4 separate regions of the Homo sapiens genome follow, and regions 1, 2 and 3 are each reported to be linked to region 4. Evidence: microRNA targets listed by miRTarBase, many of them from high-throughput screens and not tested one by one. Region 4 holds a microRNA gene; each other region holds the end of a gene's coding sequence.

Evidence for each region. Region 4 holds the annotated microRNA hsa-miR-5194 (UGAGGGGUUUGGAAUGGGAUGG, at 2,615-2,636, opposite strand). A microRNA usually pairs through its seed, bases 2 to 8, with sites in the 3' UTR of a target mRNA and lowers its output. Matches are read on the target gene's strand: a 7mer-m8 pairs with bases 2 to 8, a 7mer-A1 pairs with bases 2 to 7 and ends in A, and an 8mer does both.
Region 1: miRTarBase lists MAFG as a target of hsa-miR-5194. Seed matches in the 3' UTR shown: 7mer-A1 at 3,675-3,681, 7mer-m8 at 3,279-3,285 and 7mer-A1 at 2,265-2,271.
Region 2: miRTarBase lists GPRC5A as a target of hsa-miR-5194. Seed matches in the 3' UTR shown: 7mer-m8 at 5,783-5,789, 7mer-A1 at 5,298-5,304 and 7mer-m8 at 3,168-3,174.
Region 3: the mRNA of APEX1 is a reported target of hsa-miR-5194. Seed matches in the 3' UTR shown: 7mer-A1 at 6,080-6,086.

Annotation. Positions count from the first base shown.
Region 1 is chr17:81,916,506-81,923,619 of GRCh38, forward strand. It overlaps MAFG (MAF bZIP transcription factor G), which reads right to left. Exons shown (of 3, transcript NM_002359.4): 2 at 6,645-6,709; 3 at 1,765-6,552. The coding sequence starts at 6,680. The coding sequence ends at 6,100. It overlaps SIRT7 (sirtuin 7), which reads right to left and starts at 1,671. Exons shown (of 10, transcript NM_016538.3): 1 at 1,534-1,671; 2 at 1,325-1,462; 3 at 1,110-1,214. The coding sequence starts at 1,626. MAFG-AS1 (MAFG antisense RNA 1) reads left to right here and starts at 6,394. Exons shown (of 3, transcript NR_186500.1): 1 at 6,394-6,727. RefSeq lists enhancers at 856-1,752, 1,871-1,920, 6,404-7,114 and a silencer at 1,271-1,740.
Region 2 is chr12:12,912,019-12,919,112 of GRCh38, reverse strand. It overlaps GPRC5A (G protein-coupled receptor class C group 5 member A), which reads right to left. Exons shown (of 4, transcript NM_003979.4): 3 at 6,971-7,029; 4 at 1,176-6,666. The coding sequence ends at 6,574. MIR614 (microRNA 614) reads right to left here and starts at 3,284; the gene lies at 3,195-3,284.
Region 3 is chr14:20,456,518-20,463,631 of GRCh38, reverse strand. APEX1 (apurinic/apyrimidinic endodeoxyribonuclease 1) reads right to left here. Exons shown (of 5, transcript NM_001641.4): 4 at 6,772-6,964; 5 at 5,865-6,641. The coding sequence ends at 6,124. It overlaps PIP4P1 (phosphatidylinositol-4,5-bisphosphate 4-phosphatase 1), which reads left to right and starts at 2,198. Exons shown (of 7, transcript NM_144568.4): 1 at 2,198-2,448; 2 at 2,787-2,977; 3 at 3,334-3,440; 4 at 3,899-4,004; 5 at 4,192-4,244; 6 at 4,336-4,426; 7 at 4,930-5,951. The coding sequence starts at 2,307. The coding sequence ends at 5,073. RefSeq lists enhancers at 1,534-1,613, 946-1,911, 1,914-1,983, 1,912-2,878 and silencers at 2,104-2,513, 2,574-2,743, 6,248-6,542.
Region 4 is chr8:130,005,746-130,012,859 of GRCh38, forward strand. MIR5194 (microRNA 5194) reads right to left here and starts at 2,708; the gene lies at 2,589-2,708. The region is part of intron 1 of CYRIB (CYFIP related Rac1 interactor B); the gene reads right to left. It overlaps LOC124902025 (a long non-coding RNA gene), which reads right to left and starts at 5,575. Exons shown (of 2, transcript XR_007061113.1): 1 at 4,911-5,575.

The DNA.
Region 1 (7,114 bases), not on the chromosome of region 4:
GCCCAGGCTGGAATGCAGTGGCATGATCTCGGCTCACTGCAACCTCCGCCTTCCAGTTTCAAGTGATTCTCCTGCCTCAGCCTCTCGAGTAGCTGGGATTGCAGGTGCCCGCCACCATGCCCGACTAATTTTTGTATTTTTAGTAGAGACAGGGTTTCACCGTGTTGGCCAGGTTGTTCTTGAACTACTGACCTCATGATCCGCCCACCTCGGCCTCCCAAAGTGCTAGGATTATAGGCATGAGCCACCGCGCCCAGCATGACTGGACTTTTACATGTGACTTGTGGAGGGAGGAGACTAAACCCCAGGGCTCCGGGTATTTGAGTCAGTAGTGAACTCCCTTTTTGCATTCTTGCTGCTGAGCCTCTGCTGTTCTTTGCTTGGAGTGCCTCATTCCAACCTTCTGTAAATCTCACCCATCCTTCAAGGCCCAATCAAGGCCACCTCCCACAAAAAGCCAACGCAGGTGGGTTTCCCAACTCCAAGAGCGCAGAGTGTGTGTCTGAGTTTGCTCTAGCGACCCAGCACAGCCAGCTTTACAGTATGGTTATTTGTTCACATGCCTGATCCTTGTCACCTAAAAGCTTCCTGAGAACAGAAATCACCTGGGTTCAGATCTGCTAGGCCGACGCGTGCCCAACACCCCACACACACCCATCAAATTAGATGGACGAGGTGCCAGCTACACTTTCAAAGCTAGTGATGTCCCACAGCCCAGGATAACTTGTCAGTGAAACTTCTCAAAACACAATGCAATTCTCTCCTTCACCTGGTGTATTCTGGCTCTTACTGTGTCACTTTCTACTTATCTTCCCTCGACATGGACAGAACAGAGTGGAAAATCACAACTTTGGGCTTAGCTCTGTCCACATAACCTGGGGGTGCCTGCGAGCAGTCGGCTACTACACCCCATTCGTATCTCTACTCCTTGTTTTTTTTAACTGGCTGTAACACAGAGGCCAAGCGTTTAAAAAGCGTTTACCTTAGGTAAGTTTTGGTCATTTCGTTTCTTTAAGAGAAAAAACCTTAGAGCTGCTTTAAAGGCGAGTTTTTCGCGATTACTGGAGCTCATACTCCGTCCTGGGGTACGCCTCCGCCTCCCTCCCTACCGTGCTGATTCCCGCGCCTGTGTAGACGACCAAGTATTTGGCGTTCCGGACGGCGCTGGCCAGCTCCCGGACCTTCCCCCGCAGCTCCTCCGGGTCGTCGCACACCTGCCAAGACGCCAGGGTGGTCACCGCCCCGGGCCGCCCCACCCGGGACCGCCCGTCGCCCCAGCTGCTCCCGAAACCGGGGGCGCCCGCGCGCCGCACGCGGAACTCGCCTCCTCCTGCCGCCGCTTCAGGCCCTCGCGCCGCCGGCTCCGGCCCTGCAGCTCCGTTACCAGGTCCGCGCTCTCGGCCAGCAGCCGGCCCTCCTCGGCGCTGCGCTCCGCCGCCGCCTTCCTCAGGATGCGCGACACCTGCGGGCAGGCGGACGGTGAGCGGCGGCGCGGGCCGGGCATGGCCGGGCCGGGGAGCGGCGGCGGCGTACCTGGCGGAGGCGCTCCCTCTGCTGCTCCTCCCGCAACCTCCGGACCCGCTCCGCCGCTTTGCGCTCGGAGCGGCTCAGACCCCCGGCTGCCATCGCTCCCCTGGAGACCTGCTCTTCCGCTTCCGCCTCACACGGCAGGCCGCGCTCAGGGCGCATGCGCAAGATGGGCCCCGCCCCCACCCACCCCTTCCGGCTCCGCCCGCCGCGTCGCCCCAAAGAAGCACCTGCCAGTCTCTTTAAAAGGTTTATTGATCATATACAAAATAAAGAAAACCTTATATATCACAAACATACACTATGTACAGCAATAAATACCCGGGGGGCCAGGCCCAGTGCTGCCCCTCCTGGACAATAATTTAGCAATAAATACTGCGCAGGGCAGGGGTAGGGCACCAAGGCCACTGCCCTGCAAGAGGTCAGGCCCCTGCCCGCCCTACACGAAGTGTGAGCGCTCGGGCCTCACCCCGCATCCAAACCCCAGCCCCTCCTCACTTAGATCTTTAATAACCTCCATCCCACCCCAGCAGATCCCGGGGTCTTCTCCCACACACACAACCTCCCCTGGCTAGACCTAGGCAGGGCAGGCAGGGACTGATCAACTCTGCTTGGACCCACCTCTCAGCGCCAGGAGAGCAACAGGGCTGGACACGCGGGCAGCCCTTGTCCTGTTGCCAGGAGAAGGCTTTCTGTGCCCACTCCCGTTTGGTTAAAGGCTTCAGGGACTAGCAGATTGAGGGGGTGGGAAGAAGGGCAGGGCTGGGACACAAGGTTGCTGGAGGGGCCAAAGCCCAACTGGGGTCACCAAGAACAGGGAGGTCTCACAGTTTATCGGGGACACACTCTAGCTCAGACTCAAGGGACACCCATGGTATCAAAGCTGCTGCTCCAGGGGCAGGGTGGAAATGTGTGGGACTGGCCCAGCAGGTATGGTACACACCCAGGACACAGGCCAGAGGCAGGACAGGCATTAGTCTCTCAGACACGCCCTGCCTCTGTGTGGCACTGATTATGTACTCTACTCTCCCGACCTGCTCCAAGGCCAGACAGCCAACAGGAAGGCAAAAATACACCAAAAAGAATTATTCAGTGGCTTCTGGGGGAAAAATCGTTAATGTGTTGGTTCCTTTCACCAAACCACAGCCTAAAAAAGTAACTCACAAGATCCCAGAGCGGAAACGGTGCAGCAGGCTGCGGCTCCGACTTTCCAGATGTGGATGGGCGCTTTGGCCAAGTGGCCACTCCAGAGGGAGGCAGCAGGGACAACATGGGACCTGACCATCGTCCCAAAGCAGGCTGCAGCCGCTCAGGGCCGTGGGCCGGGCCCTGATCACCAGTCAGAAGTGTACACACATATCTGAAACATGCACCAAGAGCTGAGCCAGCAACACCAGTGCCACCCCGAGCAGCAGCCAGGGGCCTCACTCTCCTGGTGAGAGCTGACCTGTCCCTGCTGGGTATTCCTCTGAAATCTGAGCGTCCATGTTAGGATAAAAGAGGAGTTGGGGCAAAGTTAAGGTGGAAGGGAAGACATATATCATGGTTTACTTGGCGGACAAGTTTGAGAGACCTGGCCTTGGCCAAAGCCCTCGATTCGCTGTGTCAGAAAAACTGAGGTGAGAAGAGACCACCACCCTCTCCACCACCCTCTCAGTAGGAAAGCGGGATCAACAGAGATCAGAAGGACAGCACACTCACACCTGCACATGAACACACCATCTATGTCAGGAAATCCAGGGGAAGGGGAAGAGGGGTGGAGTGGCTCCGCAGGGCTGACCTGACAGGGGACAGGAACACTCCCCTAGACCCAGGGAAGTCGCCCCAAATCCAAAGCTCTTGAAAGGAGGTATGGCCTCGAAACTCCAGAAGCCTCTTCTGCCAACGCACCGAGGACCTGCACCTCCCATTCAGCACGCGTCGACCCTTACACCCTCCTCTTCCACACTCCCTTCGCCTCCAGGTCTGCAGCCTGGCAGAGGTGCTCAAAATGGATGGCCACCCACAGCCAGGACAAAAGTGGGGGCTGCACAAGGACAAGGAGGGCCTGTTTCTCCCCACTCCGAGGCAGATCATGACGTTTTCTTCATGGATACTTATGATATGATTCCAACTAACGCCTGGATTCTACTTAGACAAGATCAGACTGAGGGGAGGGGGATGAAGTCACTAAATGACAAGAGTCAACAGCCAATATTTCCATTTTCAGGCTGACGCAGGTAGACACAGGACTTGTCTCTGAACACCTCGAGCAAAGAAAAGCTCATTAACATGACAAGTGTTGATGGTGCCTCCCTGTTCCCATCCTGTGGGCACACCAGGCCAAACTATTGGATAAAAATCCCACCATCCATAGGGTTAAGCCCTGTTGGGCCACAGTTTTTCATCTTACCCACATCTGTGTGCTTTACAGAAGTCTGGGCCCCACAGAAAAGAAACCAGCAACCCGGTGAAAGGCCAGGGCTCACATGGCCAGACACAGGGCTGTAGCCTCTTGGAGGTGGGTAGGGGCACCCCCTCCCCATCATATGCCTACAAGGAGCCTCCTGAGCCCAGCCAGGAAGGGCAGCAGCCTCTGGCGAGGAACTGAGAGCAGGAGGCAGGCTGCGCCCCCACAGGGAGGCACCTCCAGCAGAAGCCAAGCAGCTGATCCCTGGAAGACACAGATCCCAAAGGGAGGCAGAAGGCAGGCCCGAAGCCAAGAGCTGCCAGCGTGGACCAGCGGAGAAGAGGGACAAGACCCGGCCCTGGAGACTGTAGCCCTTGTCTGCACTGGTGGAGACCCCCAAGGCTCTCAGAGTGAGGCAGGGACAAGGAAGAAAGGGCGGTGCCCGGTGGGCCCCCACCCACTCTGCCTGGAAGCACCACCCGCAGCATGGAAACACCTCAGGGATCAAGCGGGCGGCGAGACCTGCAGCCCACGGCGCGGGCAGCCTATAGGAACAAAGCTGAGGCCAGAGGAAGACGGCCAGGGAACGCTTGGCCATAGCCCTGTGGCCACCCACAGTGACTCCCTCATCCCTGTAATGCCACCACCCAAGGCCAGAGGTGGTGGGTGTGGAAGCAGCGTGGGGCGCCCCAAGGGACCCCAGTTTCACCTACCCCGCCACTAGATCAGCCCAAGCCCTAGACACAGATGTAGCCAAGGCTCAGTGGAGGGGGGCATGACAGAACCCCATGTCTCACCTCCTACGGACCAGGAGCTGGTGGTGGGCACAGATTCCTTGAGCTCTGACGCAGCAGGCGCCACTTGGCACCCCAGCCCAGGTCCAGCAAGCCAGCAGAAGCAAAAGCACAACTAAACCCAAAAAACGAACACGGGAAAACAGACACAAGAAGTGACACCCACAGGTCAAAGGTCACCAGAAGCACCAGCACTTTACCGCTGCACAAAACCTCACCAGGCACGGACGACACCACGGCACCGGCAAGAGACGGAAGCAGGAAGGGCAGAGGAGTAAGTCACTTTCGGTACAATTGCAAAAGATATCAAAGAGGACGGCCTTCTGGTCGGCTCACGGCTTGGCTTTTTTTTTTTTGTCTTTTTTTTAAACTAAGTTTTATAAATAATGTCTGATAACTCTGTGTATATAAAAACTAAACTCCAACAGCCACAAAGAGGTGTCCGTAAGTTTACAAGAAAGGGATTTTTTTTCTTTTTTTTTCTTTTTTTTTTAACTAGCAAAGTTTCTATTATACTTTCTTCCCTTTTCCATTCATATGGTCAAATGGTCTTCTTGCTTGTTTTTTTTCTAAAAGACAGTTTTATAAATACTCTGCAGCTCTTTTTTCTTTAACTTTTAAACATATAATTAATTTAATAACTTTGTAAAAGGAACTTCTCTCTTTTAAATAAAGGGCTATATAACCACACAAATAGGTCATGTAAACAGTGACACGGGACCCATCGCAGGGCACACTGGACCCACCCTCACGTTAAGCGCACAACCAGAGATTTGGTCTTGTTCAGTGCAACGGGTCAGGCCTGAGTGCACAGCCCCTGGGCCCAGCTGCACGCCCCCAGCACCACTGCGCCCAGGCTGGTGGTCCACCCATCAGGGCCTTCAAGCCCGCCCTACTCTCAGAGCAGAGCCCATCTCTTCATGCTGGGCTAAGCTGAGCTGCTCCCCTGGGGCTAAAGAGAGTGAATCCTTCCCAGCCCGCGAGCCTGTGGCCACTCGGGAGTGGAGGGAACACTGGGACCCTCACTGCTCGGGGACACGCGAGGCCCAGCGTGCCTGCTCCTTCTCTCTCCCGCAACTCTCTCTAGTCCGTTCCCACAGCACCAACTCTGGACTCCAAGCCTGCATGGCCCTGGTACAAAAGGGGTTGGGGCGACCCCACGTCACCGCCGAACTGACCAATCCCAACATACAAAACACACGACGACAATGACGAGATCAAAGGGGCTCAGCCCGGCGCCCCTGGGGTACAGGTTGTGCTTTGCAGGGAAGAGAGAAGGGTGGGGAAGAGAGGGAGGAAAGAGAAGAGAAGGAAACAGAGGGACAGGGCAGCCAAATTCGCCATGTGCCTAGTGGCCCCGCAAAGACCCGCCTGGGCAGACGCGCGTCCCTACGATCGGGCATCCGTCTTGGACTTTACTATTGTGATGACGCTGGTGGCGGCCACCTTGCCTGGGACGAGGGGCCCCAGGCCGGCGGCAAGGGGGCCCCGGGCTGGCGCCACGGGGCTGCGGGCCACCGTCCGGGCGAAGGTCTGCAGCGCCTCGTACTTGGAGCGCAGCGCGTCGAGCTCCAGCTTCATGCTGGCGTTCTCTGAGGCCAGCTTCTCCACCTCCTGCTGCAGCTCCGCCTTCTGCTTCTCCAGCTCCTCCTTCTGCGTCACCCGCTTCACGCGGCAGCTGGCAGCGTAGCCGCGGTTCTTGAGCGTGCGCCGGCGCTGCTTCAGCTGGACGATCTCCTCCTTGGACAGGCCCCGCAGGTGCTGGTTCAGCTCCCGCACCGACATGGTCACCAGCTCCTCATCCGTCAGGCTGGTGCCATTCTCACCCGGCTCCCGCTTCACCTGGGGCACAGTGCAGGTGGTCACAGGCCAAGCGGGCACGCCCACTGTGCCCCCCGACCCCAGCCCACAGGCTCCTGTCCCTGCCCACTCACCTTCAAGGCCTTGTTTCCTTTATTGGGGGTCGTCATAACCCGGGGGCACAGCGAGCAGGCGCTCTCTGCAAGACACGGAGCAGGTCAGTACCCTGGAGACCACCCTCGCCGCACCCCCCCCCCCCCGCCCCCGGCCCAGTTCACAAGAGCCCTTGCCGCACAGCCCGCCCCAGCCTGCTGTCCAGGTGCCCAGCCCCCAATACCTGATAGGAGGCAGCCCTTGGCCTCTCCCAGGCTGGGCTGAGCTGCTTCCTGTCCACCCTGCCCCTAGAGAACCAGGTGGGAGGTCAGGAAGGTCTGACGGGAGAAGGGGAACTGAAGGCTGTTAGGAAGGCAGGCGCAAGACAAGGGGCAGGGGAGAGATTAGAAGGAATAAGACGCGGGAGAGGCAGGCCTAGAAGGAAGCCGGGAGCTTTAAAAATAACCCCGGCACTGCCCAGAGCGCGGCTGTTCCTGGCGAGTCACGCTGA
Region 2 (7,094 bases), not on the chromosome of region 4:
TTCTTTTCTGCTGAAGACCACGATTGGATTGGACTTGGATTGAATCACTGGGCTCGGGACAAACATCTTGGCTGAGTCATTACAAACACAAGTTGTCTGCACGGATCTCCAAGGACTACCTCTGCACCTGCTCTCAGAAGCTGCACGGGGAGGGAGGGCTCTTCCAGGTGTGGCACTTACTCCCTGAAGGGAGCCAGAATTCCATGCAAAGAGAAAGAAGGGGGATGGGTGTGGGTTTTTGGCTCACTATGGGCCTCAGGGAAGTTGAAGGAATCAATAACACAAACAAGTGAATAGGAATTCACTGTTGGTTGGGGGCATGGTGGCTCACACCTGCAATCCCAACACTTTGAGAGGCCACAGTGGGAGGATTGCTTGAGCCCAGGAGTTCAAGACCAGCCTGGGCAATATAGTGAGACCCCATCTCTACAAAAAAAAAAATTTCAAAAATTAGCCAAGCGTGGTGGCGCACGCCTCTAGTCCCAGCTACTTAGGAGGCAGAGTGGGAGGATCGCTTGAGCTCAGGAAATGCAGGTTGCAGTGAGCTGAGATCACAGCACTACACTCCAGCCTAGGCGACAAAGCAAGACCCTGTCTTAAAAATAATAATAAAAATAAAGAATTAACTGTTTACTGGATCCTGAGCTTTCTTGTAAGAGTGGCTGAATCTGGTCAATTCTGAGATGAGTCAAAAGATGAATGGAAAATAAAATCTCAGGCTGGGCATGGTGGCTCATGCTTGCAATTCCAGCACTTTGGGAGGCGGAGGGAGGAGGATCACTTGAGCCCAGGAGTACAAGACCAGCCTGGGCAACATAGGGAGACCCTGCCTCTACAATTTTTTTTTAATTAACCATGTGTGGTGGTGTGCACCTGTGGTCCCAGCCAGTACTCAGAAGGCCGAGGCAAGAGGACCACCTGAGCCCAGGATGTCGAGACTACAGTGAGCCGTGATCGCACCACTGCACTCCAGGCTGAGTGACAGAGAAAGACCCTATCCCAAAAGAAAAAAAAATTACTTTTAAAATTTTTTAAATTTTTTTTTTAGAAAAAGAAAATCTCAGTAAAGGGGAGCATGTAAGAACCGGTTGAAACCTTGAATACATTATGATATGAAACCAAGTATATCAAAAGATGGTGCTTGAAAACAACAAATTTTACCACCTGACTCAGACTTCTTTGTCGTTGTTTTATTTAAAATGTTATTGTCTCTGATTAGAAAATACAGTCATGAGGGCTAAAAACTGAAATGATGTGAAAAGGCATCCATTAAGCAGTGTTGCCCCACCACCCTTTCCATCAGTCTTGTCTCATGGGGATGGGGAAAATGAAGACAGAACGCTTTGCCTTGCTTTGCAATCCCTCCTTTGAAGGCCTTCTGTCCCAGGAAGCCAATGTTCATTTGATGTGGAAGAGGGACCTGTGTTTAACCAGAAGCTGTCCTCCCTCATCCCTTTCCCATGGCTTACACGCAGAAGGGAGAGGAGATGACCAGAGGAGAAATCAGGGGAAGAAAAGGCAACAGGGGAGGCAAAGGGAAAGGAGAGGAATGCTTAAAATATACAGTGAAATTTGAGTAGGATTCTCTACTCAAAGACTTCTCTGGGAAGTGTCCAGAATTGACCACACAGGTGCTGACGGTAGAAAGAACACAGACCCAAAACCCTGATCTAGTTGCATTAACTCCATTAGCCCTGAGTTCCTCTGTAAAATGAAGACTGTGGAGGCACCAACTAGAGGATTTCTGTGACCTTCTCAAACTCTAAAATTTTTGGCACTGGACTGTTCCACTTTGAAGGGTCAAGAAAGAAATCTGGAGGTTGCAGAAATCAGGGTCAGGCGCACATACACGCACGCACGCACACACACACACACACACACACACACACACACACACACAGATCCAGCAGCATCCTTGGAACATCCTGAAGTCAAGAAAGGCACAGCACTGTCTGCCCCGATAGAAGGAATTCCAGAAAACAGCCACGAGGTTGGGCCACAGAATTTCCAAAGAGAGCAATCTACAAACTGGGGGTTGATTTCCCAGTTCCTGGATCTCAGCAGTCAACACACGAGAAGGATTTTTTTCTGAAGCTGCCACCTCCAATTCTGAAATAATCCCATGTTTCAGACTGGGGCCGGGACGGTGGCAAACCTGCAGACCCTGGCAGCAAGATGAGGGCAAGGAAGGGAAAGGTCAGCTGGGCACAGTCCAGTTCTCAGCAGTAATGACAGAAATGAAGGAAGGAAGCTCAGAATGAGTGCACGGGGGAAATGGGTTTTGCTGATGCATTTCCAGGGCCGGCCGTACTCTTTGTTTTGGCACACTTTTCCTGACAAACAGCCAGTGTTCTCAACACATAAATACTAGTCCACGTTAACAACAATAGCATATGAGACCGCTCTCCGTAAAGATGCCAGATTGGATGCAAATGGACTGGAAATACCTTGGAGGGTTTCACAAAAATAAGACAAAGGGCAAAGGAACTTTGCCAAAGGAGATGGAGAGCAATTCTTTAAAGTTAGTGGGAGGGAGGAAGCAAAGAGCTCATAAATACAAGCCTCTTAAAATGGGACGCATTTGCCTCGCGCCTACTGGGTGTCTGCAGCTCAGCTTGGTGCCCCACACAGGACACCGACTTTAAGTGGCTGCCTTTGCAAGGCTGAGAGGCCATGAGGGTTGATGCCTGAAGTGTCAGCGCCATCTAGTGGAAACATGGGGCATGGCCGCTTTGGACGGCCTCAGCCTAAAATGAGAGGCAGAGAGACACGCTCTATTTCGCATCTCACAATGCAAGATGAGAGAAAGGCTGTTGAGTTTTATTTCATCATCGCCCGTTTAGGTCAAAGGAGATGCCACTTTGGCTCCCAGTCATCAATCAACTGGCAACACCCAAGGACCAGGCTGGGCTACATTTGCACATTCCATTTCAGCCCAGGTAGAGATGGAGACACTTATAAGAACGGCTTCGGAATGTTCTCCAGTTTGATTCTCAGATGTCAAAGCCTGTAGGCCATGAGAGGTCCCTACTTAAACAGAACAGCTATCCTTTGGTACCCTCTCCAAAGAAAAGAAAGAGTAAAAAAATAATAACTTTTAAAAATAGCTTATTTATGTGCAGAAGGTGTGAGACCTGAAGATGAGTTAACAGCCGCAGCAGTGGGAGGAGGGGTGACAGGTACTGCTCAAATGAGCAGCAACCTTCTGCCACCTGGCAAGAACAGGCGTTCAGTGCAGGGCTGGCCTGCCCCTGCAGGCTTCAGAGACCACTGCGTTTCTTAGAAGGGAAACAACGGGGCCGGGCGCGGTGGCTCATGCCTGTAATCCCAGCACTTTCAGAGGCCACGGTATCCCAGCACTTTCAGAGGCCAAGGTAGGTGGATCACGAGGTTTGGAGTTCGAGATCTGCCTGGCCCATATAGTGAAACCCTGTCTCTACTAAAAATACAAAAATCAGCCGGGCATGGTGGAGGAGGAGGAGGAGGAGAAGGAGGAGAAGGAAGAAGGAGAAACAACAGTCCAGAGATGATGCCATTTCCGGGGAAAGAGGTTGACTTGAGGAAGGCAGCCATGGGAATAAAAGCTCCCACAGATCCTTTTCACTAAAAAGAAAGCAGGCCGGGTGCAGTAGCTCACGCCTGTAATCCCAGCACTTGTGGGAGGCCAAAGCAGGAGAATCTCGAGTTCAAGACCAGCCTGGGCAACAGAGCAAGACCCCCACCTCTACAAAAAATATATTTTGTGTGTTTTTCAACAAGTGATTCAAATTGCTGCTCAGATTTTAAAACTTACTGTAACTATCAGTGTAAAGACCCATGCCTGGATCCTGTTTCATTTTTATATCAACTTGGTAAAAATGCTGTTCTTGACACCCTGTCCTCTCTATCCTCCCTCAAACCACATGTGATCTCTGAAAAAATAAAATTAGCCAAGTGTGGTAGTGCACGTCTGTGGTCCCAGCTACTCAGGAGACTGAGGCAGGAGAATCACTCGAGCACAGAAAGTTGAGGCTGCAGTGAGCTATGATTGTGCCACTGCACTCCAGCCTGGGCCATAGAGCTAGACCCTGTCTCAAAAAAAAAAAAAAAAAAAAATGCCGATCCAGAGTATTTTGTGATTTTACCTTTTACTCCTCCTCCCTTGCTTGGTTGGTAGTATGAAGACCAGAGAAGGAAAGAAAAGATGGAAAGGAGGCTGGGCATGGTGATTCCCACCCGTAATCCCAGCACTTTGGGAGGCCAAGGCGGGCAGATCACTTAAGATCAGGAGTTCAAGACCAGCCTGGTCAACATGGTGAAACCTCGTCTGTACTAAAAATACAAAAATTAGCCAGGCGTGGTGGCGCACGCACGCCTGTAATCCCAGCTACTCAGAAGGCCGAGGCACGAAAATCGCTTGAACCCAGGATGCGGAGGCTGCAGTGAGCTGAGATCATGCCACTGCACTCCAGCCTGGATGACAGAGTGAGACTCTATCTCAAAAAGAAAGAAAGAAAGAGAGAGAGAGAGAGAGAGAGAAAGAAAGAAAGAAAGAAAGAAAGAAAGAAAGAAAGAAAGAAAGAAGAAAGGAAGGAAGGAAGGAAAGAGAGAAAGAAAGTGGGGGGGGAATATGCATTTCTTGAGTCCCTAGCCTATGATAGATAATATATGTGAAACCACATTGCTTTATTCTCACAACAAACCTCATTAGGTCACACCTCCTGGGAAAGACCAGAAGGATCTGTGTCACTATGTGTCCTTCCCCCTTTTCAGTACAAAGCCAGGCTAATCTTAGCGCGAAGCCTACCAACCAAACCTTTGCGGCATATAAACATCCCTAACTCAGCACATCATCCACTCACCTCCACCTCCCTCGCCTCTGCCTCACGCTGGTTTTTCCTTTTGATGAAAAGCAGAGCGTCAGGCTCTTAGGAAGTAACTCCCTGACTTAGCTACACATTTTTACATGTCACTCAGTTTCTATGTAGAGGGATTATTTTTTTTCCATAACGAAAGAGAGATTTCCTATTGCTCTGCCCTACAGAGCTCTTTCTTGGATTAAGTCAATTATCATGGTTAGGTGTCACATGTTTTTGCCAAGAGACATTTGTGAACTAATTCTGTCAAACAGGGGATCTGGATTTGTCCTCTCCCACAATTAGACCTTGGGTGAAACATGAAACCGGCTTTGAGCTCTCCTCCCTGCCTTTCCTGGGCTGCCAAACCCCAAGCCAAGGTTGCCACTCCTCTGCTTTTCTGGAGTAAAACCTCAGGCCCCGTGATGATCCTGGCTCTCACACCATTGACAGCCTCAAAAATGAGGGGAAACACACTTGTTTTAGAGGGAACGGGAGAGACACATGAAGAAGGGTCAAGTACAAACCCAAAGGAAGTGAACCTTGAACTTCAGCTCCAACATGAAGCTCTCAGGGCAGCCCGTGTTCTATCCCCCAGAGTCTAATGCTCATTACTGGTAACTGCTGCCACCACCATGAAAGAGTGGCCACCACATCTTTATTGCATACTCAGGTGAATAACTTATTATACAATGAACACTCCTCCATTAGGAGACCATGCCCACTTACAGAATGCAGCCGTAAATGCGGTAAATCTATTTACAGAGGTTGGGGTGCAAGATGAGAGAAGTATCAGCCCCAGGAATTTGAAGTGAGAATGATCTACAAATTCTCCTGACAAGGAGCAACCGGGCTTGTGCTAGTGAGGTCTGAAAGAATTCCTGGCAGAGCGTAGGGGGAGATTAGATCTCGGAATTGACAGCAAGTTTGGGGACAGTGCAAGAAGAGAGGGGTGACCTGTGAATTGGTGCTGGGGAGCTGCTGAGGCCCAATGTGAGGCAGCACTAGAGAGATGAGTAAATTTAGGGTGATCTTTAGCCTCTCCTACCCAGGCAAGAAGGGTTGGGGAGCGGGGGTGCCAGCAAGTTGGCTTCCAGTGTAGATTCAGGCCAGTGGGCTGAGAGAGGCTTTTGCTATTTTTGCTCAGATATGCAGGTCTGCTCTGGGCCACAGAGCCTCACAAAACCCACTGTGAGTTAGAGGAGCAGGCCCCTAGAGCTGTGTGAGCCAGCGTGAGCTCAGATGACCAGACCTTTAGTCCATGGAAAATAACAGCAAGATTAAGGGCCTAGGCTGGGAGCTGTGGCTCACGCCTGTCATCCCAGCACTTTGGGAGATGGAGATGGGAGGATTGCTTGAGCACAGGTGGTCGAGGCTGCACTGGGCTGTGATCGCACCACTGCACTCAAGCCTGGGTGACAGAGCAAGATCCTGTTTCAAAAAACAAACAAAAAGAGTAAGGGTCTAAACTTGAGTTGCCTGAGACTCCCACTTAAAAGAAGTATCCAAAGGATGAGACAAAAAAAAAAAAATACTACAGCGCCTCTAAGAACTGGAGTCTTACTAGCCCACATCAGCCCCAGCATGGAAGAATTGTGGTTGAGGCTGGGAGGGAGGCAAACTGTTCCCGTAGTGTCTTGTACAGTTTTCTCAGAAGACTCAAGATTTCGCCCACATCCCTTTGAGCTCCCGCTAGATCTGCCGCCCGGCTGCATTTGTCCCACTCTTCAGGACAGAGTTAGCTGCCCTCTTTCTTTACTTCATAGTCTTTGTAAGGGCTCGGCCAAGCGTGGGCCCGTGGGATGGAGAATTCCTTTTGGGGAGGCTGGTTCTGAAAAGGAAACAGTCATATCGTGAAACCCACTCCAGTTCCTGCCATTTCAACAGGTCTCCAGTCTGGGCAGAAGTCTCATTTCCTTCCCTTTCTCCCAGGCCTCCCACCCCCAAGTCCTCTCTATGCCAAGCACTCATTCTTACCCACTAACCCCGTGAGGCCGCTTAGAGGAAAGAAGACCCATCATTCCTTCAAGTGGCCATCTAGGGGCCATGAGAAAGGTAACATCGTCTGTTTCCAAAGGATCAGTGTTCCTGAGGTGCTAATGCCTTTGATGAAGAGGGAGAAAAAAATCACTTACCTGCAGCTGAAAATGTGTGGAATAGGGGGCATAGAGCGTGTCCCCTGTCTCTTCAAAACCTGAAATGGAGGAACAGGAGAAATTAAACCACTGGGGCCCCCACCTATGTTCACCCCATTGTATC
Region 3 (7,114 bases), not on the chromosome of region 4:
ATTTTTCTGCCTATTGATCTACTCAACAACACAGAGCTCAGATCCTAGTTATCCATGCACAATACTCATTTTTCTTTATGTTTTAGAAGTTTTCTCTGGCTGCTCTAGCTAGAAGTGATCTCTTCTTTTCTTGAACTTGAATTACATTGTTTAATTCTTTTATTATGAAGCATGTGCTGTATCATGAATTTCTAGTATTGATATTTTTCCATGTAATAAAATACTAGTGCTGATTTTCTTTTTTTTTTTTTTTTTTTTGAGACACGATCTTGCTCTGTTGCCCAGGTTTAGATCATGGCTCATTGTAACCTTGAACTCCTGGGCTCAAGCAATCCTCCACCTCAGCCTCCCAAAACACCGGGATTACAGGCATGAGCCACCACTCCTGACCTGATATGTTATACTGTCAATGTTTACACTATTCTGTCTCCCTACCCAGAGTGTAAGCTTTTTTAAGGAGTGTCTTTCACAAAGTGTAGATATTTAAAAAATATTTTTAGGACAGTTTTTGGAATATATGTGTAACTAGGGCGCAAATAATGGATCCTACTCCAACCCCAGACAATGCTTGAGCATCTGTGTGCCACAAACAGCAGAAAAAGCAGCAGACTGGCCTCCCTCTATGGAGCTACAACCTCTTCCCTATTTTGTATCTGGAGCTTCCTTAGTTCTTTAAGTGTCTGTTAGGGGCTCTTATCTAACTGGTCGAAGGTTACTAGCTTCCAAGTAGAAGTTGGCCTGAGAAAACCCTGTCTAAAAAAATCAGGACCTAGGTGAAGTCTCCAGCCCCTGTAGCAGCCAAGTGCTGGGACATCTGCAGTTCCTTTGTTATTACATATTTGGGGCTGGCTGTACTTTCTTTGATGCACTTCCTTTCTTAGTGGAGAGTCTGCTAGCCAAACTGATAATGGACCTCCTCGGGGTTTATTGTTTTTATCAATTCCTTGTTGCTTCCCATATTTAAAGCAGTCCCAGTTTGGGCTATGACTTGGGAAAAAATCCAGGTGTGGTTCAGGCGCCCATAAAGACCACACGAGACTTCAGGTAGGGGAGGAGGCACTGCCCCTTTGCTGGAAGCAAAGTTGAGACAGGCCTAAAGACTGTCCCATCTGTCAAATAAGGTGACGAAAATAACCTTGTATTTGATTAATCCAATCTACAAACTTGTGCGTATGTTAAAGGTTGGTGGTCATAAAACTGAGTAAAGGCACGGTGGCTTGTCCCTGTAGTCCCAGCTACTGGGAAGGCTTAGGCAGGAGATCAAACTCAGGAGTTTGAGTCCAGCATAGGCAAGACCCCATCTCTATTGAATTTTTTTTTTTTTTTTTTTAGTAAAACGATGAAATCTTCTAGTAGTGGAGACACTAATGAAAAGATAATTTAACAATTTGATCAGCAATGGGGAAAGACGGGGCTCTGTAAGGACAGCTTCCAGGAAAACCCAGTCTTGTGTCCTGTCCTGAAAGTGACTCTAGCGACAAAGGCTGGAGTGATAATCTTAACTTTTTAATCCATTTCCTTCTGGTACCTCATTACTCTGACTTTTTAAAGGTACTTCTTTGAGTAGAACAGCTAACTTTGTCTACTGTTCCCCACCGTCCATTTTCTCCCCGCTCAGAAGATCCCAAGCTTCCGCACTCCTTTATTGCACCCGCCCAGCCTCCTTTAAAATGCATAAGCCACGCCCCCCATGTTCTGGCGCTAAGTTCGGGCCAATGCAGTTGCGCCGCTAGGATCACAGGACGAAAGAAGTAAAGTCACCAGCCAATAGGAAACCAGCTACAACGCAAAGCCGGAGAAAAGTGTTTTAGTGGTGTCTTTGAACCAATGAGGAGCAGAGCAACAGGGACCGTGCAGCTTCCAGAAACACGTGACCAGTTGAGCAGACGCAGCCTAGCCCTACCTCCTGGTCTGGAGGTAGCGCGATGGGCGTCGCTCCCAATAGCTTGCAGAACCTCTAGTCACGTGCAGGTTTTGCAAGCCCAGCAGCATCTGGCAGGTCATGTGACAGTTGACGTTTGTGCGTCGCTCCCCAATGGAAAAGGAGAGCTGCCTTCACAGGACCAGGAATTGGTTTATCTACGCGAATAATAGCATGACCCGGGCGGGGATAGCCTATCACGTGCTGCTAGACGGAACGGGGCGGGGCAGGCCACTGGTTGCGGAGTGAGCTGGGCGCGCGGCGCGCAGGCGCCCTGGGGACCCGGTAGCGGCGGTGGCGGTGGCGGCGGTGGCGGTGGCTGCGGCGACGGCAGAGGCGAAGGGAGCCGGATCGCCGACCTGAGCGGGAGGCGGCGGTGGCGGCCATGGCGGCAGATGGAGAGCGTTCCCCGCTGCTGTCTGAGCCCATCGACGGTGGCGCGGGCGGCAACGGTTTAGTGGGGCCCGGCGGGAGTGGGGCTGGGCCCGGGGGAGGCCTGACCCCCTCCGCACCACCGTACGGAGCCGGTAAACATGCCCCGCCCCAGGGTAAGCCGGGGCGGGTCCGAGGTGCTCCCCGGGGTACTCTGAAAGCCGGGGAGGGGGCGGGACCGAGGGCGGAGGCGGGTCCCAGTCGCCAGGTGCGGGACTGCTGCACCTGTGACTGGGCGAGGCTTCCTTCCCTCCGTAATCGCGACCACAGCCTAGGGACGGAAGGGGGTTCTGAGCAACCTGATAGAAGTGCCAATTATGAGAAGCCCTCCGAGCTTGGTCAGAGGGTTGAAGATCAGAAGGACTTCCCTACCACCGTGGAGCATCAGTGGGGGTGTAAGTGATCCCAGCCCTTCTATTTGCTTCCTCTCCAGCATTTCCCCCGTTTCCCGAGGGGCATCCAGCCGTGTTGCCTGGGGAGGACCCACCCCCCTATTCACCCTTAACTAGCCCGGACAGTGGGAGTGCCCCTATGATCACCTGCCGAGTCTGCCAATCTCTCATCAACGTGGAAGGCAAGATGCATCAGCATGTAGTCAAATGTGGTGTCTGCAATGAAGCCACCGTGAGTTACACATATCTATGAAATGGGCCCTGTTTCCTGGATCCTCTTTCTGATGTCTTGGTTCTAGACCCTGACCTTCCGGCTATTAGCCAAGTGCTTTTGATGATACCCAGGTTTCAGTTCCAGGTGTCTCACACAGCCATTTCCCCAGAAGCCACTCACCAAAGCTAATGTTCACTTTCTCTCACTTTTACACCTAGCCTAGTTCCTATTTGCAAATCTCATGATATAGTCTTTCTTTTATTTCTCCTTCCTGGTTAGCACCTTATTTTTCTGATCTCATAAAGTGTTTTTGGAGGGAAGTGGAGGGGATTGGGATTAGAGGTTTGCTTGCTGATGACCCTATTATTCTCTAGCCAATCAAGAATGCACCCCCAGGGAAAAAATATGTTCGATGCCCCTGTAACTGTCTCCTTATCTGCAAAGTGACATCCCAACGGATTGCATGCCCTCGGCCCTACTGGTAAGAGGCATAAGGTGGGGAAGGGCCTAAGTGGGGAACTGGAAAGTCAAAAAAGGATGAGCGTATACAGAGAATGTAAAGGTGAGAGAGCCTAGTGTTTATTTAGGAGAAAAGGCTTTGAAGCATGTGCCTCAGGAATGTTATAGCTGTCTTTCTCGTTTCTCAATAAAAATATTGAGATGAAATGATGTCGTTTCGGAGAATAGAGAGCCTTGGGGACTGGGTGTGTTATCCTGAGGTCGGAGGGGAATTGGGGACCTGAAGTTTAAACAGTGCTCTTTCTTTCTCAAGGATTCTTGAGGGTATACAGTTGGGGGACAGAGTATCTTAAGTACAGAGAAGTCGAGTGACTTAATAGACAGGGAGTGGGGGATGTGGAACAGGGACTGTGAAGATTTTTAGGATTAAAAATTTTTCAAACACAAGTTTGAAAATACAAGTCTTTTTCTTTTGTATAGCAAAAGAATCATCAACCTGGGGCCTGTGCATCCCGGACCTCTGAGTCCAGAACCCCAACCCATGGGTGTCAGGGTTATCTGTGGACATTGCAAGAATACTTTTCTGGTGAGGAAGGGGTATTGGGAAGGGGAGGGGAAAGGAGACTAAGAGTCATTTCGAGTATATTTCTTAGAGTAATGGTAATGACCCCTGAAAGGTCTGTCCTATGGGAACATGTTCTGCATCCCCACCCCAAGGTTCTCATTGAGGGAGACCCTGCTTGTGCTATTATTTTTGTTTTCTTTCTCCATAGTGGACAGAGTTCACAGACCGCACTTTGGCACGTTGTCCTCACTGCAGGAAAGTGTAAGTGATTAGGGATTGAGCTGGTAATTGATGTATGGAGTAAAAACTACAAGGCCATAGAAAGCATCCATTTCTATTTGCCTCCCCACAGGTCATCTATTGGGCGCAGATACCCACGTAAGAGATGTATCTGCTGCTTCTTGCTTGGCTTGCTTTTGGCAGTCACTGCCACTGGCCTTGCCGTGAGTACCCTTGCCCCAACCTCTTTCATTCTGCAGCCTCATCTCCATAGGCTAAGATTTGGGAAACTGCTACCCTAAAAAAAAGTGGAAGAAACTTGGGGGACTAGTTTGTTTTGTTTTAAGATATGGATGAGCTAAAGTGCAAAGTGGCTGATCAAACAGACTTTATTACTACTACAAGAGTGAAAAACAGCCTTCCTTTCTCTGTAGGATGAGGATAGGACAGTGAAATTCTTAATTTAAGAGTTGCTATTTTTCAAACCTGGCTCAGTTGTCAGATATTAAGAAAAACTGAGATACAGTGTGGGATGGGATGAGTATGTTACGCCTAAGGGAAGGAAGCTGATCAGCTCTGCCTTTAAGAAGGTCCCTGAGGGTGGCTACATGTGGATAAGGAACAAGGACTGAAGCGTGAGTTATTACTGTTCTTAGAACTAATAGGAGGTAGTGGAGACCAACATTAACCCCATCTTTCTTTTCTTCTCCCTCCTTATCTTCATCAGTTTGGCACATGGAAGCATGCACGGCGATATGGAGGCATCTATGCAGCCTGGGCATTTGTCATCCTGTTGGCTGTGCTGTGTTTGGGCCGGGCTCTTTATTGGGCCTGTATGAAGGTCAGCCACCCTGTCCAGAACTTCTCCTGAGCCTGATGACCCACAGACTGTGCCTGGCCCCTCCCTGGTGGGGACAGTGACACTACGAAGGGAGCTGGGGTAGTTAAAGGCTCCCGGGGCTTCTAGAAGGAAGCCAAGCAGCTGCCTTCCTTTTCCCTGGGGAGAGGTAGGAAGGAACCAGGCCCTCACTTAGGTTTGGAGGGGCAGATAAGAGCACTGCTGACCATCTGCTTTCCTCCAAGGGTTGCTGTGTCTAGGGTGAAGTAGGCAAAACGTTGCCCTTAAAACTGGGCCCTGAAGACGGTTCCAGCCTTGTCCTTCCTGTGTGCTCCCTGAGAGCCATTCCTGTCCCTTACACATTCCAGGGCAGGGTGGGGGTGGGTAGCCCTGGGGGTTCCCCTCCCTCTTGTGCACCATTAGGACTTTGCTGCTGCTATTGCACTTCACCAGAGGTTGGCTCTGGCCTCAGTACCCTCAGTCTCCTCTCCCCACATTGTGTCCTGTGGGGGTGGGGTCAGCCGCTGCTCTGTACAGAACCACAGGAACTGATGTGTATATAACTATTTAATGTGGGATATGTTCCCCTATTCCTGTATTTCCCTTAATTCCTCCTCCCGACCTTTTTTACCCCCCCAGTTGCAGTATTTAACTGGGCTGGGTAGGGTTGCTCAGTCTTTGGGGGAGGTTAGGGACTTATCCTGTGCTTGTAAATAAATAAGGTCATGACTCTACGCTTTTTCAGTTGTTAACTTGTGTGCATGAAAATATGAGGAAGAGAATGTGTAGCCCCACGAAGGGGTAAGACACGAAGACAGCAAGGCTGAAACTATGGCTCTTTATTTTCATGTGGATAATTCAAACAAAGTCATTAGTAGTCTTTGTTCAATTTTTTTTTAAAAAACAAAAAACCCTCAAATAAAAAATCTTGGGCTTAAAAGAACTCTATCACAGGAGCCTGGTTGGAGGATTCCTAGTTTTATACATGAGAAATAGAATGCAGATTTCTCTGAAGAGTGTTTAAAGAAGGAATGGTAGTTGAGGGGGCTTATTTCCCAGGCTCAAAGTGATTTAGGGGTGGTGTCACAGTGCTAGGTATAGGGTGATAGGACAGTGATCACTGCCGAGGGCCTTGGAACGGATCTTGCTGTCACACAATGCAGGTAACAGAGAGTGGGACAACAAAAAGTAATCAAGGCGCCAACCAACATTCTTGGATCGAGCATTCATCATATAAGTCCAAAAGGTGTAGGCATAGGGTGTGTTGGGGTAGAGGTGCCTAAAGCTGTCAGCCAGTGGCACAGCCTGCAGTAATTCCCCGAAGCCTTGGCGCTCTTGTGGCGTGAAGCCAGCATTCTTTTTGTTCCCCTTGGGGTTGCGAAGGTCAATTTCTTCATGTGCCACATTGAGGTCTCCACACAGCACAAGGGGCTTTCGGGAAGCCAGGCCCTTCAGGAACTTGCGAAAGGCTTCATCCCAGCGCTGCCGGTACTCCAGTCGTACCAGACCTCGGCCTGCATTAGGTACATATGCTGTTACCAGCACAAACGAGTCAAATTCAGCCACAATCACCCGGCCTTCCTGATCATGCTCCTCATCGCCTATAGAAATGAAACAGAATTAGCATAAAAAACTATAAGAAAAGGGAAAGCAATCAAGAGGTGGGGCAGAGATAGAGAATTAGCAATTGGTTTTGAAGAGTTCAGGCATTAGGCATCAATAGGGTCTCACCTATGCCGTAAGAAACTTTGAGTGGGCACTGGCGGGAAAGCAGGCCCACGCCACTGTACCCTTCCTTGTCCGAAGGAGCTGACCAGTATTGATGAGAGAGTCCAGGCAGCTCCTGAAGTTCAGCTGGTAGTTTGTTCTCTGAACATTTGGTCTCTTGAAGGCACAGTATATCTGGGGCTTCTTCCTTTACCCACTGTAAGTGAAAAGAAAGGTGGAAAACGTATTATCAATTCAGCAGAACATTTATTGAATAATCTATATGCTAAGTCATAGATACGCACGGGTTAAACAGTCTCTTGGCCTAAGGAGTTCGAGTCAAGCAGCACAATATTCAAACAATTCT
Region 4 (7,114 bases):
GGCAGGAGGATCACTTGAGCTCAAGAGTTCAAGATCAACCTGGGTAACACAGTGAGACCTCATCTCTTAAAAAAAAAAAAAAAAATGTAAAGGCTGGAAAAGATGGGACTAGGTGATCTCCACTGTCCTTTCCATCTCACACCAGCCACCCCACGCCCAACACCCTCAGAATAGATGACAACGGGCAGATTACCCTTAACAGATATTTCTCTAACCCAGTGACAGGGACCTCTGCATCAGAATCACTTAGAATGCTCATTAAAAATATGACTCCAGGCTGGGCGCGGTAGCTCATGCCTGTAATCCCAGCACTTTGGGAGGCCAAGGCAGGCAGATCACTTGAGGTCAGGAGCTTGAGACTCACCTGGCCAACATGGTAAAATACTGTCTCTATTAAAAATACAAAAATTAGCCGGGCATGGTGGTCCACACCTGTGATTCCAGCTACTCAGGAGGCTGAGGTATGAGAATCGCTTGAACCCAGGAAGCGGAGGTTGCAGTGAGCCGAGATCACGCCGCTGTACTCCAGCTTGGGTGACAAAGTGACACTCTGTCTCAAAAGAAAAAAAGAAGAAAAAGAATCTGGCTTGCCGGGTACAGTGGTGTGCACCTATAGTCCCATCTACTTGGGGGGCTGAAGTGGGAGGATCACTTGAACCCAGGAGAGTGAGTCCAGCTTGAGCAACGTAGCAAGACTCTCATCTCAAAAAATAAAATAAAATAAAATAAAATAAAATATATATATATTTATTTATTTGGGAGGCCGAGGCAGGTGGATCACCTGAGGTCAGGAGTTCGAGATCAGCCTGGCCAACATGGTAAAACCCCGTCTCTACTAAAAACACAAATTATATATATATACATATATATGTGTATATATATACATATATATGTGTATATATATACATATATATATGTATATATATATGTATATATATACACACATATATCTGGAACCTCCCACCCAGGAAGTGTAAGCACACCCAAGGTATGAGCAGATTAAAGAAATCCTGCAGAAGGGGGAACACATGCATAGAGTATGCTGGCAAGGTCACATATAGAAAATGGGTGGGGGGACTTGAAAGCAGAGGTATAAATCCTATGTGCACCTTATTTGCTCAAGTCTACATGGACCAGCATCCAAACATTGAAATTTTCCTTTCAAATTCAATCCCCCAGAGTGTATGGTCTCAGGACCCTTCTTTCCCCCAAATCTTTTCTAGTGGGGATGCATGTATGCAGACAATGCAAAGTGCTACAAATCGCAACACCAAATGCATCAAGAGGTAGATTATTAGTATGAGTCAGTTTCACACTAACTTTACCAAAAACCTCACTGCTCACATTAGCTCAAGTAATCTACTTACAACCACAATTATAAATTCTGAGCTTCCTTGGCTGACGAGTTTGCAGTAGGTGGTTCTTGGCCCTGAGGGCTGCTGAGATGCCCGCCGTTATGAGATGCCCACTGAGAAAACCACCGCCCTCTCCCAGCAGGGTCCAGCAGGAGCAGTGTCTGCTCTCGGCTACACAACTCCATTCATAGACTTTTCCAGTTACGTTTGAGGTTCACCCAAAGGAGGTAGTAAAAACAGGAGGTGGGCACTGAAGCTGGCCTGGTATGTTTGAATTCCAGCTCTGCTTTTTATCAGCCTCCAGGTTTTCTCAGTTTCCTCATCTGTAAAACGGGAATAATATTACCTGCCTCACAGAGTTACCATGAAAGTAAGAAATAAAATATTCAAAGTATATGACATGGCTGGGCGCAGTGGCTCACGCCTGTAATCCCAGCACTTTGGGAGGCCGAGGCAGGTGGATCGCCTGAGGTCAGGAGTTCGAGACCAGCCTGCCCAACATGGTGAAACCCTGTCGCTACTAAAAATACAACATTAGCTGGGCGTGGTGGCACAGGCCTATAATCCCAGCTACTTTGGAGGCTAAGGCAGGAGAATTGCTTGAACCTGGGAGACGGAGGTTGCGCTGAGCCGAGATTGCACCATTGCACTCCAGCCTGGGCAACAAGAGCGAAACTCCATCTCCAAAAACAGCAACAACAACAAAGTACAGGACACTTGCTCCATGCTCCATAAAAGAAAGTTAATATTGCCATAAAGGAGACCAAAAAAATCACAGAAACCCACGACGTGATCCTGATGGGAGCCCTGTTAAGAGGGGCTTCCAGGCCAGGCATGGTGGCTCACGCCTGTAATCCCAGCACTTTAGGAGGCCGAGGCGGCCAGATCATCTGAGGTCAGGTGTTCAAGACTGGCCTGTCCAACATGGTGAAACTCCATCTCTACTAAAAGTACAAAAATTAGCCAGGTATGGTTGCGGGCGCCTGTAGTCCCAGCTACTCGGGAGGCTGAGGCAGGAGAATTGCTTGAACCCGGGAGGTGGAGGTTGCAGTGAGCCGAGATCGTGCCACTGCACTCCAGCCTGGGTGACAGAGCGAGACTCTGTCTCTAAATAAATAAATAAATAGAGGGGCTTTCTGCCAGGTCCATAGCTGCCTGCACACATAGTCCAGAAATGTGACCTCACTCCCTAGCTCCTGCTCCACTCGCCACCATCAACCTGCTGGCCTGTCATTCATGGTGTCTGGTGACTCTCCCTGCCATCCCATTCCAAACCCCTCAGAAAAGCTTATCCAATTCCTGAGTGAAAAGAATGGGCCTAGAAGGGCTGAGTTTAAGTTAACCCAAAGAAATAAACCCAAACTCCTTCATTCTCCAAGCTGTTCAGGCCTCAGGGACATGTGTGGGGTGACTGTGGGGCACACACTATCATTCCCCATGTGGATCCATCACGGGGCCTAGCACACAGGAGGTGCACACTCAGTGACTGTTCTGTTGTTGAATGGCAGGATGAATCTCACTCCTCCCTCAAGACCTGAAAACTTGAGAGTTATGAAGGCATGTTTAGGAATGACTGTAAAATACCACTTTTCAGAAAACACAGAAATCTCCATTTGATTCTTTCATTTGCAAGCCTGTTTGATCTGTCTACACACTGGTTGGTCTCTCGTGTCCCAGAAGCAGAGGGCAAGACACAAAACCAGAGTTCAGGGGAGCAAAGCAGACATTTTAGGAAGTTATTGCCCAAGTTTCACTTCCACGTCGTCTTCTGCATTCTACTTCAACTCTGGTTTTGAGCAAAGCTGGGGCTGGTGAAGAAACTTCCCTTAGTCTACATGTTCCTCTCCCTGAGTCCCAGCACTGAGGCTCTGTAGACCAGGGACTCAAATTACTGAGCACTCACTGATGCTAGACCCTATGTCAGGCATATTCAGACATCTTCTGACCTAAGAGCCACAACAAGCTGGAAAACAGACACTGAGATGCCAAGAGAGGTTATGCAATGTGCAAAAGACTTCACAGTCAGGGAGTCGGGTCTGAATCAAAGATCTCCTTGGCTCCAAGGTCCTTGCTTCTCAACCTGCCACTGTCCTTTTTCAAAGGCGCCAACCACTAACATGGCAAAGTGTTTCATTTTTCATAAAGCCATCTGAGGAGTTCAAAAGCATCTTTTTTTTTTTTTTTGAGACAGAGTTTCCCTCTTGTCACCCAGGCTGGAGTGCAATGGCACAATTTTGGCTCATTGCAACCTCTGCCTCCCAGGTTCAAGCAATTCTCCTGCCTCAGCCTCCCGAGTAGCTGGGATTACAGGTGCCAGCCAACACGCCCAGCTAATTTTTGTATTTTTAGTAGAAACAGGGTTTCACCATGTTGGCCAGGCTGGTCTTGAACTCCTGACCTCAGGTGATCCACCCGCCTCGGCCTTCCAAAGTGCTGGGATTACAGGTGTGAGCCACTGCGCCCGGCCCAAAAGCATCATGAAAAACTGTCCCCCTGCATTAAATTCAGATCCCATCTCTGCCAGAAGGATAGCCCTGGACAAATCATACAGCTCTCACCCACCTGTGACTATGCCCCATGGGAGAAGGACGTGTATATGGAGGCTTTCTGCTAGACTATGCTAGATGCTTTGATACACATTATCCCACTCAATCCTCCAAACATTCCAGGGAAGCAGGTGATAGTAGCCCAGCTTCATCAATGACAATTCTGGTTCTGCAGTGGGATGTGATTTGCCCAAGGTCATGCAGCGCTGAGAAGCAGGCCCAGGGCTCCATCAGCCCTGCCATGCAATAGGCTTTGTTGAGTGAGCACTGGATGTAAATTCCAAAGAGCTTAAAGCGGCCAGACAGAGCCAGTGACAGGAGACTCTATTAGGCAGATGAGGAAAGAATGGAGCTTTTCTTCCTCCTACCGCCCAAGCCTTTCCCATCCTTAACTCCTCTGCACAACGGGGCCCTCACTGTCCTTCCCCCACCTTCTTATCAAAGGATGCTGGTGCTGGGAGGGGGAAAAGACAGAAAGAGGATTAGTCTCTGGCATGGTTTATGTTGATTTCAAAGCTGTCACTTTTCCCACATTGGGCCTTCTTTTTCACTGTGGATTTAAGTGCCTAGTCCCCTGATGAACGAAGGTCAAGGGCAGAGGTACATTTTGAACTAGAGAAAGTCCTCAGCATCCTCCTGCTCTCACAGCCTTACTGCTAAACACAGCAGTGGATGCAGAGGGTGGCACTGTGGAGCGGTGAGCAAAAACCAGGCTCAGGAGCCAGAGGCCTAGGTTCCAGTCCTGACTGTGCCTCTTGGTCAAGATGCTTCCCCCCAGGAGGTCCCAGTTCCCTTGTGTGTTAAAATTAGAGTACTGGATGCTTAGGCCTGAAACTCTGAGTATGGGGTTTCTGCTCAGTCCTTCAGCTCACACTGCCTCTCCTCCCCCGCTCCCTGAAGGCAGCCCCATCTCAATGGCTCACAGCATCTAGGCCCTCCTGGGCTTATTCAGCACCTGCTGGCAGACAGAGGTGGTCTCTCTCCCACCCCTTCCTGCTCCCACTGTCACCTGTCCTGAGGTCCATCCTAGGCCTTTGTCACTTTGTCATATGTGTGTTTTCGCATGCATGCCTCCTCCTCTAAGCTAACTTGGAAACCTCCAGGGTCATGTAGAGATTTGCACCATCAGCATCAGCCTGGCTCCTGAATGAATGAAGGGGAGAGGGTCAGGTTGGATGATCTCCTGGCCCACTGCACTCAAAGTATGGTCTACAATCCAGAGGCATCGCATCATGTGCAAAAGTGTTCAAAATGCAGCATCTCACCCTGCCCCAGCCCCTGCTCAGAACCTCCGAGGCAATCCCCACGTGATGCGCAGCACACTCAAGTTTGGAAAGTTCTCTTCCAACTCCTCCCTCCCTTGCTTCTACCACCTAGAAGCCTCCGGAACTATGGCCTTAGCAGGTCTCACTAAAACATAGCCCATCATTAACCAAAAGAGATCTGCCTTAGGAACCTTCTAGAAGCCCGCCACTGACTCTCACAAGCAGAATCTGAAATGTGTGCTCCCCGGGGGGACTCCTGGCACACATTACTCAGTGGCCCTCTCCGACCCTCAAGGAAGCCCAGGAAGCTTTCAAGAACGCTGAGGCGGCCAGGCGTAATGGCTCATGCCTGTAATCCCAGCACATTGGGAGGCTGAGGTGGGTAGATCACCTGAGGTCAGGAGTTCGAGACCGGCCTGGCCAATATGGGGAAACCCTGTCTCTACTAAAAATACAAAAATTAGCCTGGTGTGGTGGTACGCGCCTGTAATCCCAGCTACTCGGGAGGCTGGGGCAGGAGAATCGCTTGAACCCGGGAGGCAGAGGTTGCGGTGAGCTGAGATCATGCCATTGCACTCTAACCTGGGCAACAAAGCAAGACTCCATCTCAAAAAATAAAAATTAGGCTGGGCATGGTGGCTCACGCCTGTAATCCCAGCACGTTGGGAGGCCGAGGCGGGCGGATCACAAGGTCAGCAGATTGAGACCATCCTAGCAAACACGGTAAAACCCCATCTCTACTAAAAATACAAAAAAAAAAGAAAGAAAGAAATTAGCCAGGCATGGTGGCGGGTGCCTGTAGTCCCAGCTACTCGGGAGGCTGAGGCAGAAGAATGGCATGAATCCGGGAGGCGGAGCTTGCAGTGAGCCGAGATCGCACCACTGCACTCCAGCCTGGGCGACAGAGCGAGACTCCATCTCAAAACTAAAAATAAAAATAAAAATAATTAAAAAAAAAAAGAACGCTGAGGCCTGGCAGAGTCAGACAGACTGGCTGCCCACTCACCCACACGGATCCCATGTCCACGTTCAGAAAGCTCTCTTCCCTCATTTCTCTACTCTTGACATTTATTCAGCTTGTAAAGAAAAGGATCCTTTCCAAAACACGTCTTCAGTTTTTTAATAAACCCCGCAATTCCTTTAATGATTTCAGATTATCTTAAATATTTATAAAAATCACTCTCAGCAACACTTCTTTAAGCAAACCTCCTCATCAACTTCGATTATTTATATATTTATGAACACGATGTTCAAGGAGCAGATGGCAGCTAGTAAGTCCTCCAAAAGAAGGAAAAAAAAAATCAATGGGACAGAATGTAAGCTCCATGACTCGTCCATGTACTCTTCTCGACAAGCTCTGGTACAATTATCTTTCCATTCAGCGGAAGCGCCACACAAAAGTCCACAATTGGTTTAAAATAGCACACTTGGACTTCATAAAGCTTGGAGGCTCCAAGTTTAATCCAGGAATGACCTGCCAGCCAAGGGCTCTATTCCCAAAGGAAACTGAAGCTCTGTCAGGGGAGGGTAAGACATTGGATGCAGGGACAGATGATGGGACCAGGGGAGGGACAGAAAGAGCACCAGGGGCTGAGGGAAGAAACAGACATTGCTGAGCACCTCTAGGTGCCATGCTCTCTGCTGGGCACTTTCCATACAACCTCTGGGTTGATCGTCACAGCAACACTTCCAGGTGGCGACTGTTAGTCCTCATTTGAAAGATGAAGAGAAAGACAAAGAGAAAGGAAGTATCTTGGCCAAGGGCACAGAGCTAGTGAGTGGCAGAGCCAGGATGTGAACCCAGGCTGTAGGGCCCCAAAACCTTCACTGCCTCTAGAAAGAGAAAAGGAGGAGAGGAAAAAAAAAATATTGCTCTCAACCTCATGCATCCTAGGCTAACAAAGTTGCCTTTCTTTCAGCCTGGTGAGGCCAATCACCCATTTTAAGA